Linked DNA regions of Homo sapiens. The protein of the gene in region 2 interacts with the protein of the main gene of each other region in a biochemical or structural test. Each region holds a gene or a part of one and is shown on either strand. Other genes may lie near its edges.

What was found.
Region 1: the proteins of TTC27 (region 2) and DAPK1 form a complex in vitro, tested with the Homo sapiens proteins (one large-scale study listed by BioGRID and IntAct).

Annotation. Positions count from the first base shown.
Region 1 is NC_000009.12:87,633,669-87,637,486, reverse strand, and holds part of DAPK1 (death-associated protein kinase 1), read right to left. Parts: intron 1-3,818. UniProt on the Homo sapiens protein: Calcium/calmodulin-dependent serine/threonine kinase involved in multiple cellular signaling pathways that trigger cell survival, apoptosis, and autophagy.
Region 2 is NC_000002.12:32,809,387-32,813,204, forward strand, and holds part of TTC27 (tetratricopeptide repeat protein 27), read left to right. Parts: intron 1-1,637; coding exon 1,638-1,835; intron 1,836-3,117; coding exon 3,118-3,229; intron 3,230-3,818.

The DNA.
Region 1 (3,818 bases), on a different chromosome or scaffold from region 2:
TTCACAATATATGGTCTGATAAGGGTTTTTTCCTCTCTTGTCTAGTATTGGTTTGTATGTAAATACTAACACATTTATAAAAATCACATTTAGTAGCCTGGGCGCAATGGCTCACACCTGTAATCCCAGCACTTTGGGAGGCTGAGGCGGGCGGATCACAAGGTCAAGAGATCGAGACCATCCTGGCCAACATGGAGAAACACCGTCTCTACTAAAAATACAAAAAACAACTGGGCATGGTGACGTGTGCCTGTAGTCTCAGCTACTCGGGAGACTGAGGCAGGAGAATCACTTGAACCTGGGAGACGGAGGTGGCAGTGAGCCAAGATTGTGCCACTGCCCTTCAGCCTGGTGACAGAGCGAGACTGTCTCAAAAAAACAAAAAAAAAGAATACATTTACAAAAAAAGCAAAATGTATGTTGTTGGTTGCGGATTTTTTTAGTTTATTTCTCTGTCCAGACTGTAAGTGGGTGGAGGGGAGTGGTCAGAACCTCCCACCCCAGCTATTGGCTACTGCTGTATGCCCCACTCCCCGCCAGAGCCAGGCACACAGCATGCATTCAAAACTTTATCAGGTGGATGGACGAACAAGCTCCCCTAAAAACTCCACGATAGCGATGAATGGCAAATAACAGGGAAGTTTTAATAAGAGTTTTTATAAGTTAATCTTTATCAAGTTTAACCATATATTCACAACATAATAATTAAGTGCAATTATGCACAAACTGCTGTATTCATTATCTCTCTTAGGGCAAGAGCGCTCCCCAAACATTATACCTTCCACATCTACATCCATTCAGAGTAAGAAAATTGGTGCTCATAAGATCAGATAAGAATGACAAAAAAGCTGTTTTCTTAAAAGTTTCAGATCCCACATGCCTTCACCCTCCAGGTCAGTGTTTTCCTTAGCACGGTCTAGAGTCCATGGGTATCAGAATTATTTGAGGATGCTTTAAAAATGAAGATTCTGAGCCTCACTTTCAATCTGCTGTGTGAGGGCTTCCAAGAATGGTGACCAGAAAACTCAGCATCTTTAACAAGCACCTGAAAAACTGAGACCATTTTCCCACGTCTTAATTCCACGCTCCTGCTGCAGGGCCTCCCACTGGTTTACGGGGATGGTGGAGTGACTCTCCTATCCCCAGGGGCCTGGCAGAGGTAGCCACACCCTCCTGTGAGCAGTCCACAGGCCTCCCCTATCCTCCAGGGGACACAGCAGGGCCTGGGCCCAGCCAGGACATCCAGGAGTCCAAGCGAAAGGTGTCCTACATGGACCCTGCCTCAGCAGTGGCCTTGCTCTCCTCCTGACCCTTCCCTGCACTCCCCACCCTGCTCTTGGGAGATGCAGTCTGCCCCCACCCTCTCCCCTCCCAGGTGTCCTTGGCCTCACAGCCCCCACACTGTCTGCCCACGGAACAAGGCAAGGCCTCCCGCTTCTCACTTTTGCATCTTATTCTTAAAACAAACAACGGGGAGAGAAAATCCTTCAACTATAGGGGGGAAAAAGTGGGAGATTGTGAACCAACCTCACCCAAAGAAAGCTCTCCCATCACACCTGGGTCTCCAGCCCTGGCTTCTGTGCTCTCTGGGGCGCCCCGCACCACTGGGCTGACTCAGGCACCGTGGCCACGTGATGTGGAGAAGTCAAGTGCCTGCATCCAGTCCAAGTCTTAACTTCTGCCACGCGCTCACCCTGAAACCCGGAAGGTTACCCCTTCTCTTGAGCCTCATTTCCCCAAAGAGGAGTCATAAGACCTCTTCCCTTGAAGGTTATGAGGATGAAAGGTAATAGACATGTGTAACTGGCAAGGCTGGCACGTGGGTAAGGTCCAGCTTGCGGGAACGAGTGTTGTTATAAAGAAGGCCACTGTCACCCCTGTAGCATACCACTGCTTCCTACAGGATCCAATATGAAAGCCCCTTCCTGCCCGCTCCTCCTCCTAAAACTGGTCCATTGGTTGAGCCTAACCACTGTGCTTCCCAGGAAGAAGGTGAGGGGAAGGAACTGAAACTTCTGCTGTGAATGTGGTGCCCAGCCGCCGGCTTTCTCTCCGTGGCCCTCTTCAGGGCCTCCCGAGCCCACCTCACTCGCATTCTGCTTGTGTTGTCTTAGAGTACAGAGATGCATTTTTCAGACAATGAGAAACGTCAGGAGTTTGGCTGCCTGGTTGGGGTGAATCTTCCAGCACCCACACAGCTGGCGCAGTCTGCTGGCCCTGAGTCCTTTCCAGGGACTCCACTGTCCAGCCTTCTGGCAACCCCATGCTGCCCTGGCCTCAGGCTTTGCCCGCTCTTCTCTGGCCAGCTTTCTCTCCCTCCCTGCCAACCTAAGCTTTCTTCAGACCCAGGATCTCCTTCTCCTGCCAGCTCCGTCTTCTGTGAGGCAGGATGGCAAAAACGAGGGGACCATGGTTCAAATCCTGCCAGGGCCTCCAACCTTGCTGAGCCTCTGACTCCCCTTCTATAAAATAAAGGGTAACATCATAGCTTACGGAGTCATCCTGAGGTTCCAGGACATGTAGCGACCCTTAGTGCTCAATAAATGCTGCTGTCTTTCTTCCCATGTGGCTTCAAACCAGAAGTCCTCCCATGGCAGCAGGGGTGTGCAGCAGGTTCTTTGGCGTTGGGGTGGGTAGAGCCCATTCCCGAGGTGTCACATTCCCACCATGGCCATCTCAAACTCCCTCCCCACGTGATGTCAGGGACCGTGGGTGGAGTTGGGGAGGGACAGGCACTGCAGCGGTGACCTGGGTGAGCTGGGATTGACACGGCACTGCCGAGCAGCCACCTGGCCTGCCATGGTGTTCCACATTTTTCCGAAGACGGTCTGACAGCATCTCATCCTCATGCTCTTCTGCACCGTGATTGTGCCATCCTCCTTCAGGCAGTGGGCGGCATCTGTGGCTCCATCTCTTGAATCTGGGCAGGCCCCATGATCACTTTGACCAATGGCACAAGTGATTTTGCCAGCCCTGCTGTGGCTTTTCATGGACTGGGGGCCTCCAGGTCCCACCTCCTGAAGCCCTCAGGTAAGATGCAAGAAGTACGACGATGCCAAACCACTGTGCCACGTGGAGAAACCCAGGAAGAAGAGATGTCCTTGGAGAACAAGGCCAAGGAGCCTCGAGCAAGGAAGGCACCTTAGAAGGGGACCCTCCAGCGCAGCCGAGGCCACAGAGGTCAGAGACTGTCCATTCAGCAACTGATCAATGAGGGAACATAACAGGGCCTGCCAAACTTCCATCAAGGGCAGATCCTAAATATTTTAGGCTTTGCCAGCCTTGCAGTCTGTCCCAACTACTCAGCTCTGCTAATGTATCATGAAAGCAGCCACAGATGACATGTACATGATGGGTGTGGCTGTGTTCCAATAAAACTTTAGTTAAAAAATAGGTGGCAACCTGGGTTTGGCCTATAGGCCATAACTTGCTGATCCCTGATATAAAGACTAGGTCATCACAGCCCAACCTGGGGCAACTCTCAAGGGTCATTCTGGCCCCAGAACTCCCTGTTGGCCAACTGGGGCTGCCACTAAACCCATTCCTGCCCCCTTCTCCTCTTCTCCAAATCTTGATCCTAAGTATAGTTCTTAATAAACACCATGCACACTCTTCTCCATCTCAGAGTCTGCTTCCCAGGGAACCCAAGCTACACCCCACTGGGTCTGGGATAGTTTTTTACATAGCCATAGAAGGCTAGAACATGCACCATCTTGAACTGGGCTTGTTTACTAGGCTCAGCCAATGGAAATTAGGCTTGCCCTTCTCTGGCCTGGTCATCTCGTGCCTTATTCAGTATTTGCGTCCTCAGAAACTCA
Region 2 (3,818 bases):
GTTCACGGTAAAATTAAAGATGTGGGCAGCTGTCTCTTGGAGCCTTGCTTCTCGAAGTGTGCCCTGCAGACCGTCAACATCAGCATCACCTGGGAGCTTGTTGGAAATGCAGAATCTTGGTCCAAGATGGATCAGCATTTTTATCCAGGATTCTGCATTTCTAACAAGCTCTGATGCCAGTGCTGTCGGTCCATGGACTGCACTGACTAGCATGGTGTTACAGTACTTTCCTCAAGCTGGTTCTTTTGCTGTCCCACCATCAAAGGAGTGGAAGATTGCGGTTGTGTTTTCTGTGCCTTCAGATACACAGCCTAATGTAGATATGACAGATGTGCCTTTTTATAATATAACCTGGTGCAGACTGCAGTTTAATCCATCTGTCAGCATTCAAAGCATCTGGGATAGAATGTGTAAAGGCTGACTGATGATAATAAGATAGCCAAGAAGTTAGGCCGGGCGCAGTGGCTCATGCCTGTAATCCCAGCACTTTGGGAGGCCAAGGCGGGTGGGTCACGAGGTCAGGAGTTCAAGACCAGCCTGGCCAACATAGTGAAACCCCATCTCTACTAAAAATACAAAAATTAGCCAGGCATGGTGGCGCTCACCTGTAGTCCCAGCTACTTGGGAGGCTGAGGCAGGAGAATCACTTGAGCCCGGGAGGCGGAAGTTGTGGTGCTGAGATCATACCACTGCACTCCAGCCTGGGCAACAGAGTAAGACTCTGTCTCAAAAAAAAAAAAAAAATGGTGAGCCAACCTGAGGTAGTTGGAAAGAGAAGAGATACTTGCTAGATACTTCGCATGCCTAATGCAAATGCATTAACGGTTCATCATTTAGTAATTAGGAGGGGCTAGGACCTCTTTAAGCGGAGTTAGAAGGTTATTATAGCAGCCCAGATGGAAGTTAATGAGGCCTGAACTTAGGTAGGAGAAGCTGTATTTAGGATTGTTTTCAACAACGTTGTTTTCAATGTTGTCCTAAATAGGACATTAGGAATGTTGAAAACATTGGGAAGGTTGAAAATCAAACAAATCAACATTAGGAATGTTGAAAATCAAATTAGTAGTTGTGGCAGAAGTGGGAGATAATCTAGGTTGATGCTCAGGTTATTGGCTTTGGGAACTGTGTGGATAGGCTCACCTAGAGATTACAGGAAGAAGATCAATTTGAGATCTATGTTTCACTTTGGATAGATGGAGAGGGATATTGGTGTAACCTGTCTGGTAGGTATTGAGGTGCACAGTCCTGGAGCTCCAGAGGGGAATCTGGCTGGAGCTGCATAGACACTAGTGAAGCCAACTCAGCAATATATATGAAGCTATAGGTGTGGATCCAATCATTCAGAGAGAATGTTCCAGGTGAGAAGAGCCAAGCACCAAACATGGGGCCCTTTGAATGAAAGAAGAACCCTCTCTGGAAGCTTTTGAAGGGACATCAGAGAGGTAGTCACCATGAGATCCTAGAGAGTGCTTTAGGATTGAATTTTATTTTGCTTTTCAAAAGCTTAAAGGTGATACTCTTAACAAGTTTCATAAGGTTTTTCATTGTCATTGTCTTTGATGATGGTGAGATAGCTCTTTGTTTTTGTTATTGTTTGTTGGTTTCTAACTTACCAGTTTGTTCTGTGCATTTTTAAGGTCCTTAAAATTCTAGTCAGGGCAGTGATTGATGGGATGACTGATCGAAGTGGAGATGTTGCAACTGGCCTCAAAGGAAAGCTGCAGGAGTTATTTGGCAGAGTGACTTCAAGAGTGACAAATGATGGAGAAATCTGGAGGCTGTATGCCCACGTATATGGAAATGGGCAGAGTGAAAAGCCTGATGAAAATGAAAAGGCAAGTCCTTCATTCCTCCTGAGTCCTTGCCTTTCGTTTGAACATGTTGTAGTAGATCTACTTTTTTGATGGGTGGAGGAAGAGTTTAACAATCTGAAAGATAAGATTAGTATGCTTAAGTTCAGTTCTGATTCAGTCTTTAACCTACGTACTTTGAATTGTGGGCTGGTTAAAACTTGTAACATTCATCTTTTTATTTACCATGAAGTTTTCTTACATAGTTGTTCCCTGTTTCCTGCAAAAGGGCCTCTTGAAATGGCCACCCCTACTAAATCTGCAGCAGAGTTGGCTTTTGTTATTTACTCCATACCCCTTTCTGCAGGCACCTTGCTAAAGACTACAGTAGATGGGTACAAGGAGAGAAGGAGTATTTAGATCTGAGATGGGGATTAGGAAAAGAAAAGAGAAAAATGAACAAGATAAAGATCTTGGAAGAGAACTTTTAAGTCAAAACATAATACTTTTACAAAGGTTGCCCTGCCCTTTCTCACAAGTGCGATAGAACACCAGTTCCACTCAAGTTATGCCTTTAGCCTCTTATCTTAGAACTTAAAGGAGCCTGCAGAGTTTCCAAAGTTGGAATAATTGTTTTATGTTTCTTTTCAAAACACCCACAACAAATCAAATGTACTCCTTGCGTGGGTTTGGAATTAGCCACGGCACAGCTAATCTGTGGGATTCTTAGCCATTCTCTCCTCCCTCAATCCACACAGCTGGCTTCCACCGTGGCCTTGTCAGCCCAGAGAACGTGTATCACCTGCACACATGCACACCCTACTTTCATGTCCTTCCATTTCTCCTTGAATTATGGACTTTCTTGCATATATGGAATTAAGAGTACCCAGAATTCTCTGACCTGTGACTTCTCCCTCAAGGATTTGAAAGAGGGTGCATTAAACATCTGTGAGATTACATATATCTACCAGCAGTTTCATTGTTTTAACCAAGTTCATGCCTCATTCTCTAAACAGGTTTTTTAAACTGATGGCTACAAATGCTGAGAAAATCTGTATATTTACAGATTTCCAAACCTGGCCTTTATATCTTTCTGGTTACAGGGAAGTGTCTCAATCCAGGTACATCCATTTGATTTCTTGCCACGGCTTGTTGCCGTTGGGTGTGCATTTCCACCCCTTCTTTGGTGAGAGTAATAGACGCTGTGCTGTACAACACAGATGCTGCTTTTTCACATTGGAATTAGTTCCATATGACTTCCAGGAAACAGAGTTTGAAATGTGAATTCTACTTGTTATTCTGAATGTTGTTCTTTCTCCTTCCTCAGGCATTCCAGTGCCTCTCAAAGGCATACAAGTGTGACACCCAGTCCAATTGTTGGGAGAAAGATATTACATCATTTAAGGAAGTTGTTCAAAGAGCCTTAGGACTTGCACATGGTATTTGATGTAACATTTGATATCCATGGAATGTTTTGACTTATTTTCTACTGACAGAAAAGAGTGTTGGTCAAAAGTAAAGTTCCATTATAAATAGTATCAAATTATTTCATTATATTGACATTGTTGTATTTAATTCAGCAAACATTCATAGACCACCTACTATGTAATAGGCATTTTGAAATAAGAAGAAGAAACAGGATAGAGGCTTATATTCTGTTGGAGTAAGTAACAGAAATTGGAAACTTTTTTAGAGATGTGAAACATCTTTACAACTTTGTATAACCTTCATTCCACACTGAGTTTCACTGTATTGATTACATAGCATTAAGGAAATCTGTTAATTTTAACTTGACTCACACATAGATCTCTGGGGTACATAGCAGTATGCAGAGCTGTAGCATATACAAAAGAAATATAAAATAAAAGCCTTATCTTTGGGAAATGGTAGAGGATATTGTTTGAGGAAAGGTTTAACCTTACATATAAAATTATATGCCTGTTGGGTAAATATAGTCCAAATAAGCATTGCTTTTAGTTATTAATTTTTAAAAATGCCAGTTAAATTTGGTAATGCATTTTTATATTT